3 linked regions of the Homo sapiens genome follow. The protein of the gene in region 1 interacts with the protein of each later gene in a biochemical or structural test. Each region holds a gene or a part of one and is shown in the gene's direction. Other genes may lie near its edges.

Region 1 (3,746 bases):
ACTATTTTGAGATTTCCTGTAAAAGGAAAGATATAAATGAATAACTAGATGGGGCAGAGAGATCAAGGGCTTTGTTTGCTCTTTTTTTTTTTTTAATCAGACGGGGTCTCGCTGAGTCGCCCAGGCTGGAGTACAGTGGTGTGATCTCGGCTCATTGCAACCTCTGCCTGCCGGGTTCAAGCAATTCTCCTGTCTCAGCCTCCCGAGTAGCTGGGACTATAGGGGCCCGCCACCACGCCTGGCTGATTTTTGTAGTTTTAGTAGAGATGGGGTTTCACCTTGTTGGTCAGGCTGGTTTCGAACTCCTGACCTCAGATGATCCACCCACCTTGGCCTCCCAAAGTGCTGGGATTACAGGTGTGAGCCACCGCGCCCGGCCTATTTGCTCTTTTTAAGGTGGGAGAAAGAACGGCAAGCTCATCAGCCAGTGGGAATGATCAAGAGGGGAAGGAAACATGGATGATGGCTTGGGGGCAGGGGGTCATCAGCGGCTAGGTTCCAGGGGCTAAGGCTGGGCCTCAGGGGAAATGCCCTCCTCACCCCTCTCCTGGGCCTAGGTCATTTGCCCCAGCTCCGATGAGCAGGGAAAGGTGGTCGAGTCCAGGACCCGCCCACCCCACCATGCCCAACTGAGCTGCAGTGTTGGGAAGATAGAGGAGGGTGGTTCCTTCCACAGGTAAGCACACCCATTAATTTGCACTGTGCAGTAGCAGGTCTGGAATATTCCAGAAACAAATGAGGGTGGCTGCCTCCAGATATTTGTTCTTACCTTAGTTCTTCAAAAAGCTTGCTCCTTGTATTTTGGGTCTCAGCTCCAGACACCTCAGAGAGGCCTTCCCCGGCACCTGAGCTGAAAGAGCCTCCTCCGATGGCCCTCTTGGAAAGCCTCTCTGTTGTGTTGATGGCGCTAGCCGGGATCTGGCAGGGCCTTCTTTTCTCATTTGTTTGTACTTTATTGACTGTCTTCCCGCTAGAGTGTAAGCTTCCTAAGGGCAGGGCTTTGTCCTCTAGCACCCAGAAGAGGGTCTGGCACATAGTAGGTGTTCAACAAATTAAGGAGCCTTTGGTCAGTAGAGATGATATTTATAATTTGATACTTTCATATTTATTGTGGGCCGATTATGGTCAGGCATGTGCTCAACTCAGTTTGATACATGGTGGGAAATAATGAGTCCCCTAAGGGGCTCTGCAACAATGTCACCACCTGGCAGAGAACAGGGACTTCTCCTTAACCTGCTGCGCCCCAGTGGCCTGGACAATGCTGGAAAGACAACCATCCTGAAGAAGTTCAATGGGGAGGACATCGACACCATCTCCCCAACGCTGGGCTTCAACATCAAGACCCTGGAGCACCGAGGGTGAGCAGGGGCCCCATGGGAGGGCCAGCCCAGAGCAGGGCAGGGAAGGTGGGAGAGGGGCCCAGCTGACCCTCCTGTCACCCGCTCCTTGCCCAGATTCAAGCTGAACATCTGGGATGTGGGTGGCCAGAAGTCCCTGCGGTCCTACTGGCGGAACTACTTTGAGAGCACCGATGGCCTCATCTGGGTAGTGGACAGCGCAGACCGCCAGCGCATGCAGGACTGCCAGCGGGAGCTCCAGAGCCTGCTGGTGGAGGAGGTGGGCAGCTCCTACCCTTTGTGTACATGTATGGACGTGTGGCTGCCTTCTCAGCAGATGCCCAGAGGGGCCCGTGGCCCCAGAGGGAAACCAGAGGCAGGATCCCTTCCTTCTCTGGGCCCCCACCATGGGAGGCCCATGGTGCCAGAGGCAGGACACATGCTGTGGACTGAGATTGAGTTAACGTCCCTGTGGTGTTACTACGTCACTACCCTGAGCATCAGTTTCTATGCCTTGAAATGGTGATGATGACACCCACATCACTGGGCTTTAGGGAGGATAACCCAAGGCCAGTATGAAGCTTCGAGAGGCCATGGAGCCTGGCTCAAGAGTCTGACTCTTTGCTGTGTGACCTCAGCTGGGGGTGGTGGCACGCACCTATAGTCCTAGCTACTCTGGAGGCTCAGACAGGAGGATCAGTTGAGCCCAGGAGGTTGAGGCTGCAGTGAGCTGTGATCGTGCCACTGCACTCCAGCCTCCTGGGCGACAGAGCAAGACCCTGTCTCAAAAAAAAAAAAAAAGGAAGGGGCCAGGTGCGGTGGCTCACGCCTGTAATCCCAGCACTTTGGGAGGCTGAAGCGGGCGGATCACGAGGTCAGGAGATCGAGACCGTCCTGGCTAACATGGTGAAACCCCGTGTCTACTAAAAATACAAAAAATTAGCCAGGCATGGTGGCGGGCGCCTGTAGTCCCAGCTACTCAGGAGGCTGAGGCAGGAAAATGGCGTGAACCTGGGAGGCGGAGCTTGCAGTGAGCCGAGATTGTGCCACTGCACTCCAGCCTGGGCAACAGAGTGAGACTCCGTCTCAAAAAAAAAAAAGAAGGACACTTGCAAAGATAGTACAGAGGTCAGAGGTCCCCCATATACCCTTTACCTTGCTTCCCCATCTTACCTAACCGTGGCCTGTCCAAACTAATAAATCAACACTGGTGAATTACTATTATCTTAATTACAGATTTTATTTGAATTTCACGTTTTTCCACTAATATACTTTTTGTGTTCCAATGTTTGATTCAGGCTACAAAATTGCATTTAGTTGAAAATGAGGACACTTGTGAGAGTGAAAGGGGGGATTCTGCAGGCAGAGTGGGGACTGTCCTGGGCACACCGCACACATCTCCTATGTGGGTGGAGCAGGTCAGATGAGATCAGGGCCGTCAAATGCTGGTCAAGGCAGGTCAAGGCCCAAGGGTTAGACCCGTCCACCCACATCTCTCCCAATCACAGACACATATGTGGAAACAACTAGAATCAGAGGTGGACAGTGAGGCCTGTCGGGAGTGGAACGGTTAAAGGGCTGTGTGAACCCAGAAGAGGGAGAGTTCACATCCTCTGTGCATGTCTGGTCATCAGATTGGAGCAGTCTAGAACCACGGAGAGCTCAGGGATCATCTTATGCAACACCCCTCCCTGTTCATGGAAGAGGAAGCTGGAGCATGGGGACAGCGGTGTCCCCTGGGTGGTGGTTGGCTGGAACCAGAACCCTGGCCCAGGGCTGCTCCATTCATGTGGGCCAGCCTTGATGGCTACGTCCACAAACTCACTCCTGGGCCTCTCCCACCACCACGGGGCCTCACCTTGATCTTCCAGGTCGATCCTTCACCCCAGATGCTCTGGGCCATTAGAGGAGGGGTCAGGCTGTCCTCTGAGTCCCCACCCCACCCCTCTATCTTTTCTCCCCCAGCGCCTGGCCGGAGCAACCCTCCTCATCTTTGCTAATAAGCAGGACCTGCCTGGAGCACTGTCCTCTAACGCCATCCGCGAGGTGAGTCCAGGCCCCGGGACAGGCTCGCTGAGGGAAAGGGGCATACATTTATTTATTTTAAAAGCATTTATTAAAAATAACCAAAAAGGCTGGGTGCAGTGGCTCACGCCTGTAATACCAGCACTTTGGGAGGCCAAGGCGAGTGGATCACCTGAGGTCAGGAGTTCGAGACCAGCCTGACCAACATGATGAAACCCCGTCTGTACTAAAAATACAAAAATTAGCTGGGTGCAGTGGCGTGCGCCTGTAAGCCCAGCTACTCAGGAGGCTGAGACAGGAGAATCGCTTGAACCCAGGACGTGGAGGTTGCAGTGAGCCAAGATTGCGCCATTGTACTCTAGCCTGTGGGAAAAGAGTGAGACT
Region 2 (3,746 bases), on another chromosome or scaffold:
GGAGGCCGAGGTGGATAGATTTTACCTGAGGTCAGGATTTCAAGACCAGACTGGCCAATATGGTGAAACCCCATCTCTACTAAAAATACAAAAATTAGCCGGGTGTAGTGGCGGGTGCCTGTAATCCCAGCTACTCAGTAGGCTGAGGCAGGAGAATCACTTGAATCCGGGAGGCGGAGGTTGCAGTGAGCCGAGATGGCGCCACTGCACTCCAGCCTGGGTGACAGAGCAAGATTCCCTCTCAAAGAAAAAAACAACAAAACCAAACAAAACCTGCAGACATATATGTGTAGCGAAATAAAAGTGGCCAGAGTTTGCTAAGGTAGCGCAACACTGGTTCCTATTCTGTGGGTCGATTAAAACTATAACCTCAGAGGTTCTCCACTGTGTGGGGATTCTAGACCTAAATTAGGAGGAAATCCTAAGTTAGACAAAGCTAGACTCCCCTGAAGTCAGGTGGCCCCTATTTCTGGGCTTGGCAGGCAGTGCTGGGGCTGGACACCGAAGCAGATCGCGAGTGGGCTTTGCCTTATTTCCAAGAACGAGGTGATGAGACCGGGGCTCCCAGAGGCCAGCGATAACTGCAGCCGTTGCTCTCGTAGGTGAAGATCCCGGATCTGTTTTGTGGCCTAGAGATTGTCCCCGCGTTGCTCCACGGGGATCTCTGGTCGGGAAACGTGGCTGAGGACGACGTGGGGCCCATTATTTACGACCCGGCTTCCTTCTATGGCCATTCCGAGTTTGAACTGGCAATCGCCTTGATGTTTGGGGGGTTCCCCAGATCCTTCTTCACCGCCTACCACCGGAAGATCCCCAAGGCTCCGGGCTTCGACCAGCGGCTGCTGCTCTACCAGCTGTTTAACTACCTGAACCACTGGAACCACTTCGGGCGGGAGTACAGGAGCCCTTCCTTGGGCACCATGCGAAGGCTGCTCAAGTAGCGGCCCCTGCCCTCCCTTCCCCTGTCCCCGTCCCCGTCTCCGTCTCCCCGTCCCTGTCCCCCCGTCCCCCGTCCCTGTGCCCCCGTCCCTGTCCCCCTGTTCCCGTCTCCCCGTCCCTCCGTCTCCATCCCCCCGTCCCCCCATCCTCCTGTCCCCGTCCCCCCGTCCCCGTCCCTCCATCCCTGTCCCCCGTCCCCCTGTCCCCCTGTCCACATACCAATCCCCCTGTCCCCGACCCCCCATCCCCGTCCCCCATCTCCGTCCCCGTCCCCCCTGCCCCGTCCCCGTCTCCGTTCCCCCGTCCCCATCCTCCATCCCCGTCTCCCATCGCCGTCCCCCCGTCCCCGTCCCCCGTCCCCGTCCCCCCTGTCCCTGTCCCCCTTCCCCCGACCCCTCCCAGATCCTGGGGACCAATAAAGCCCGCAGCGGGTCTCGGCTGGCGTCCTGCGCCTCGTTCCTCCGCTCGTGGGGCTGCTTTCAGGGCCAGACGCACGGCGAGCTGTGCACGGACGTTTTTGCGGCGATTCAGGGGAAACGCACGCGGACCCGGTAGCCAAGGCCAAAGTCGGCGCAGCGCCCACCGCGGCCTCCGGGCCCCGCTCCCGCTCCCGCTCTGGGGCGCGCCACCACTCGGCGCGGGGCCCGTGTGATCCGCGCGGGTCCCAGCGTGGCGCGAATAAGTGTCAGGGCGGTTGGCTCTGAGGGGTGGGTCCCGGGGCTCGCCTCGCGCCCCCGACTGCGTGCTCAGGCCCCGCCCCTCCCCGTCCACGCATGCTGAGGCTCCGCCCCGCTCCGCGGTCCCCCGGTCCCACCCGCCCCCGCCCCGCCCCCGCCCCGCCCCCCGGCGTGTTGTGGCTCCGCCCCGCTGTCTCCGGCCCCACCGCAAGCCCTGCCCCTCCCACCCACGCGTGCCCGGGCCCCGCCCCCGTTGCGCGCAGCCCCGCCCCCTATCGCGTGCTCAAGCCCCGCCCTGGCGGCCCCCGGCCCCATCCCGAAGCCCCGCCCCCCCGCACACCGCCTGCTCAGGCTCCGCCCCGCTGTCCTCCGGCGGCGGCCTCACCCCGCAGCCCGGCCCACCGCGTCTCAGGCCCCACCTCCTGTCCTGCCCCGCCCACCGCGTGCTCAGGCCCCGCTGAGCGGTCCCGGCTCCGCTCGCGCCCTGTGGGGTCCACGGCGCGCTCTTCCAGAGCCTTTGGGACCCGTGCCCGCTCGCGTCCTCAAGTGCACGCGCCGTCCCGCGCGCGGTATTTTGGCGGCCGACGCGTTCCGTAGCGAGGCCGGCGAGTGGGGTCGGAGGTCGCGGGGCGGGGCCAGCGTCGGTTGCCGCCTTAGCGGGCGCCTCCTTTTCATCCCTCATCCTTCATCCCTGGCTTTCGCGCTCTAGCGGAGTGGGATCTGCGAACACGTGAGGCGGGGGCGCGGTCCCCAGGCTGCCGAGATGGCCCTGAGCGACGAACCGGCCGCGGGCGGCCCCGAGGAGGAGGCGGAGGACGAGACACTGGCCTTTGGCGCGGCGCTGGAAGCGTTCGGCGAGAGCGCGGAGACCCGGGCGCTGCTGGGCCGCCTGCGGGAGGTGCACGGCGGCGGCGCGGAGCGCGAGGTGGCCCTGGAGCGGTTCCGCGGTGCGTGGGCGGCGCCGCGTGCCCGCTTCCTCCCCCGGCCCGGGTTCGGCGCGCTGAGTGCACTTTACCGGGCGGGGACCGCAGCCCGGCGGCGCCGGCCGCTCTGCGAGGGCTGCCGGTGCGCGGTCCCGCGGGCCGTGGTGGGGCGCGGCCTTCCTAGGCGGGAGAGGGCCACCCCGGCGCGGCGTTAGGTGCACGGGGCAGACGCGCGCCTCCCTTGGGGGGACCGTGGCCCGCGGAGCGCCTGCTCTCGCACGGGGTGAAGCCTCTGCGGCCTCCCCGGGAGGCGGGGTGCAGAAGCCCTCCGTCCCCCGTCTCCGTCACTGGAGGAGGTCCCTGGGCTGGGGAGACTCGGGCCAGACCCCTCCGGACAGCTGGTCAGCCCTGCAGTGTGGACTCCCAGGCTTGCCTCCACCGAGCGCGGTTTCTGTGAATGTTGTGTGGACAGGGAGATAGGGAATGAGAGAGGGGGACGCAGGGAACAAACCTGCTGCAAACAAAGCGCGCCTCGGGTGGGGAGGGCAGCAGCCTGTCCGTTCCGTGGACGCCGTGGACAGAGCGGGCTGGCCGGGTCCGTGCCTCTGCAGGCGGGGTGGGGTGTAGGTACCCCTGTGGAGGCCATTCGATGAGTCTAAATTCTCCGAGTTCAGACCCACCTTTACCGCTGTCTATAATGGGTTATTTCCAAACAAGTCCTTAGGAGCTCATAGCTAAGTAGTTACATGGGGTTTTGTAATTCAGTAAAATCATCTTTGTAGACCCTTTGAGTAAGAAGAACTTTTGCATTATTTGGCCTTCCTCATTTTAGAATGACAGCGCTTTGATTTTAGGAGTCAGGCAGGGTGGGGGGCCTTGTGGGAGGAGTGCGGGTTCGGCGTCAGATCCTCCTGCCTGTGAATTCTGGCCCTGTCGCTTGGACCTGATACTTGATTGCCTGTTTCTTCGGGTGTAAGCTGGGGCGGATAACGATGCCTCTCGTGCAGAACTGTTCTGAGGGTGAGGGACCCTCATCCAGGGACCAGTGAAGCCAGATTTTTTGTTCCTGGTGTAACAGCCCAATGGCTTCTTCCTTTTTTTTTTTTTTTTTTTTTTGATACGAAGTCTTGCTCTGTTGCCCAGGCTGGAGTGCAGTGCAGTGGTGCGATCTTGGCTCACTGCAACCTCAACCTCTCAGGTTCAAGCT
Region 3 (3,746 bases), on another chromosome or scaffold:
AGTTCACCAAGCAGAGAAGATGGGGAAAGACATTCCAGGCAGAAGAGTAGCATGATCAAAGCAATGTGGTAAAAGAATAAGGCAAGTGGGCCATTGTGGCTACGAGAGGCAGAGGGGAGGAAGGTAAAGGTAGCGAGGGAGTGGGGCTCAACTCTTCAGGGCCTGGGATGCCATGGTAAGGAATTTGGAGCTTGTCCTTTAGTTAATGGGACACGACCAGCTTTGCAGTTTGAGAAAGACATCCAGAAGAAGGAAGGTCTGGGGGCAGCCATACCAGTGGGGAGGCTTCTTCTCTGGTCTTGGTGAGAGCTGACAGTCATCTGGAATAATGCAGAATTCAAACACAAAGCTGTAGGAACTAAGGTGACATTTACAGTTCACTTCACATAGAGTACCCGTTGTGGCTAGGCATAGCACCAGCACTTCCACCCAGGTTATCTTATTGAATTTCTGAAGTAGACCTGGTCAGATTTGGTGGTCAGCTGGGCCTCAGGCATGAGAGAGGAGAAGGGATCAGGGCAAATCTAGTGGATGGGACAGTTGGAGGTGCTGAGCCCATTAGTGAAGATGGGGCAGGGGAGCTGTGAGCAGGGAAAGGAGTGGCAGGGAGAGCAGGGTCTCTGCCCACGCATCCCCCATTCCTCACTCCTGCCTGCTGTGCTGGAGACCAGGACCAGGGTCCTGACTGGTGGCCTCCCTCTCTCTGGAGATTGCTCAGTGTTCTGCCTAAACACAAATCTGACAGTGTACTCTCTTGCTGAGAGTCCTTCAGGACTCCCCATTGCATCTGGAGAAAGGCTAAGCTTCTTAGTTTGGTGTTCTGGTGGTCTCCATGGTCTGATATCCTCTCTCCAGCTTCAACTCTGCCTGTCCCTCCTCATCAAAAAACTTGCATTTTAAGATGCCCCATCCTTTCCTTCTCCAAGCTTTTCCTAAGGGTGGTGATGATGATATGATGGTGATAATGAGAGTGCAGTGGGGATAGTGAGGGTGAGAATGGTGATGGTGATGATGATGATGATGATGTTAGTGATGGTGCTGATAAGAATGATGATGGTAAAGATGGTGATTATGAGATGATGATGGTGAGGATGGTGATGGTGACAATGGTGATGATTATGGTGATTAGGAGATGGTGATGATGAGGATGGTGATGGTGAGAATGGTAATGGTGATAATGGTGATGATGATAATAGTGATAATGATGGTGAGGATGGTGATGGTGACAATGGTGATGATGATGATGATGATGATAGTGATGATGATGGTGACGGTGATGATGATGGTGACGGTGATGATGATGGTGCTGACTGGGCCATGAGGTAATGAGGCAGAGGAAGAGGCAGCTTCTAGGAAGTACAGTACTAGCTGGGAAGTACAAAGCATCCTTAACGGGGGTGGAAGAAGCCCAGGCCCCTGCCTTATTTCTTTCCTTTTCTTTTTTGTTTTTAAGAGACAGGAGCTCAGTCTGTCACCTAGGCTGGAGTGCAGAGGTGCAATCATAGCTCACTGCAGCCTCGAACTCCTGGGATCAACCAATCCTCCTGCCTCAGTCTCCCAAGTAGCTGGGATGACAGGCTCACACCACCACATCCAGCTAAATTTGTTATTTAATTTTTTTATTTTTTTTGTAGAGACAGCGTCTTTCTTCATTGCCCAGGAGCTCTGTTTTATTTCTGGACATCTAGAGAAAGCGCACTCCTCATAGGAGTACAAAGGCCCCCTCCATCCATCATTCCCTTCTCCCCATCAGAATGGAGCTTTCCTAGTGCAGACAAGTGTCTTCTACTCACTTTGCTCTATGGGAAGGGGAATAGGGAAGTGCTATTTATGAATCTGGTATAATACAGTGGGGTCTCAACAAATATTTATTGGAAAAATTTTCAGCCGAGGAGAGCAAGACTCAGAGAAGTCAGACAACTGAATCATCAATAGCATCAAGTTATGATTTACTGAGTAGTTACTATGTGCTGGGGACCATGCTGAGGGATTCCCTATATATGATCTCATGAAATTTTCACAGCAACCTCAGGAGACTGGCGTAACTAGCCCCATTTTAAAACTCATGGTAAAATACACGTAACATAAAAGTTAGTGTCTTAAACATATTTAAGTGTACAGTACAGCTAAGTACATTCACATTGTCATCCAACCAATTTCCAGAATGCTTTTTGTCTTGTAAAGCTAAAACTCTATACCCATTAAATCACAATTCCCCATTATCCCACTCTCTAGCCCCTGGCAACCATCTTTCTTCTTTCTGGCTCTATGGATTTGACTATTCCAGGTGCCTCAGAAAAGTAGAATCATACAGTATTTGTCTTTCTGCTCAGCATAATGTCCTCGAGGTTCAGTGATGTTGTAGCATGTGTCAGAAGTTCCATCCTTAAGGCTGAATAGTATTTCATCATATGGATAGACTATATTTTGTTTATCCATTCATTCATCAGTGGATACTTGGGTTGCATCTACCTCTTGGCTCTTGTGAATACTGCTGCTCTGAACATGGCTGTGCAAGTATCTCTTCGAGGGTAGCCCCGTTATACAGAGGAGCACAGAGAGACTGCGAAGAGAGATGACCTGCCTAGGGCCCACAGTGAGAATCTGGCAGAGGAGGGATCCTCACCCCATCTCCCAGATCCCACAGGCACAGCTCCTCTCCCTCACCCACTGCCTCCTTCATGATCTGCCTCCGACTGCACCACGCAGTGCCCACCTAGGGCTGGACTTGCAGAGACCTCTTGATTCCTGAAAGTTCAGGGACAGGGACTGGCGGGCATAACTTCTCTGTCACCCACTGCAGCCCATGTGGCAAAAACACATGACAATGACTTGCTTTCCACTCATTCACCAAATATGGATGAAGCACCTACTATGTGCCAGGCTTGTGCTGGGCACTGGACGAAGACCCCTGGGAAATGAAAAGATGTGAGCTCCTCAAGGACAGGGTTCTCTTTCACTCCTTGCTGCTCCTAGTGCCTGCGACAGTGCCTGCACACAGCAGATAATAAATGTTTGTAGAGTGAATGAAGAACCAGGAAGGGAGCAGGAGCACAGAGGTCCATCCTCCCGCTGGTGCTGTGCCCCAAGTAGGCCCCTCTCCTGTCAAGCAGGGAGGCCTCCGTGGTGCAGCCTGTCTCCCAGAGCTCATGGAGAGGTTTGCCAATTCCCTGAGGGGACAGTAGCCCCCCTACCCTGGTCAACTGCACAGAGGCTGTCTCTCCTTTGCTTGCAGATCACCTTCGTCCCTGCTGACTCTGACTTTCAAGGCATCCTCTCCCCAAAGGCCATGGGCCTGCTGGAGAATGGGCTTGCTGCCGAGATGAAGAGGTAGGTGCCAGGCCCTCTCGGGAGGGGAGGAGTAAGCCCCATAGGCCAGTCTCCCCTGACTGAGGAGAGTGAGAGGGAGGGCAGGAAGGCTGTTTGCCTTCTCACTTACTGAGAATGTATTAGAAATTATGGACTGTTTTCAACTCTCAATTCTGTGAGTTAGGCATTATTATTCCCATTGTACAGATGAGGAAACTGAGGCCCAGGGACTTTGTCTTGTCAGGGACGAGACAGTGTTTCGGTGAATACAAGATCTCCATGAAACAAATCATACAATGAAATAAATGTACTGTGAGAAATACAGTGCAATAGAGTCACAGGAGTAAGTGCTTCTACTACTGACAAACAAGAGGCATGGTGGTGGCCAAGGCTCAGCCTCAGGGCTTTGCCGCCTACTCGCTGCCTGACTTCCAGCA

The links.
Region 2: the proteins of ARL2 (region 1) and TBCD form a complex in vitro, tested with the Homo sapiens proteins (2 studies listed by BioGRID and IntAct).
Region 3: the proteins of ARL2 (region 1) and BSND interact in a biophysical measurement, tested with the Homo sapiens proteins (one study listed by IntAct).

Annotation. Positions count from the first base shown.
Region 1 is NC_000011.10:65,017,117-65,020,862, forward strand, and holds part of ARL2 (ADP-ribosylation factor-like protein 2), read left to right. Parts: intron 1-1,247; coding exon 1,248-1,358; intron 1,359-1,388; exon of another isoform or gene 1,389-1,454; coding exon 1,455-1,617; intron 1,618-3,302; coding exon 3,303-3,383; intron 3,384-3,746. UniProt on the Homo sapiens protein: Small GTP-binding protein which cycles between an inactive GDP-bound and an active GTP-bound form, and the rate of cycling is regulated by guanine nucleotide exchange factors (GEF) and GTPase-activating proteins (GAP).
Region 2 is NC_000017.11:82,749,815-82,753,560, forward strand, and holds the start of TBCD (tubulin-specific chaperone D), read left to right. Parts: upstream 1-2,250; 5' UTR 2,251-2,379; coding exon 2,380-2,563; intron 2,564-2,677; exon of another isoform or gene 2,678-2,940; intron 2,941-3,746. Other genes in the region: FN3K (fructosamine-3-kinase), read left to right, coding at 603-941.
Region 3 is NC_000001.11:55,001,787-55,005,532, forward strand, and holds part of BSND (barttin), read left to right. Parts: intron 1-3,235; coding exon 3,236-3,330; intron 3,331-3,746.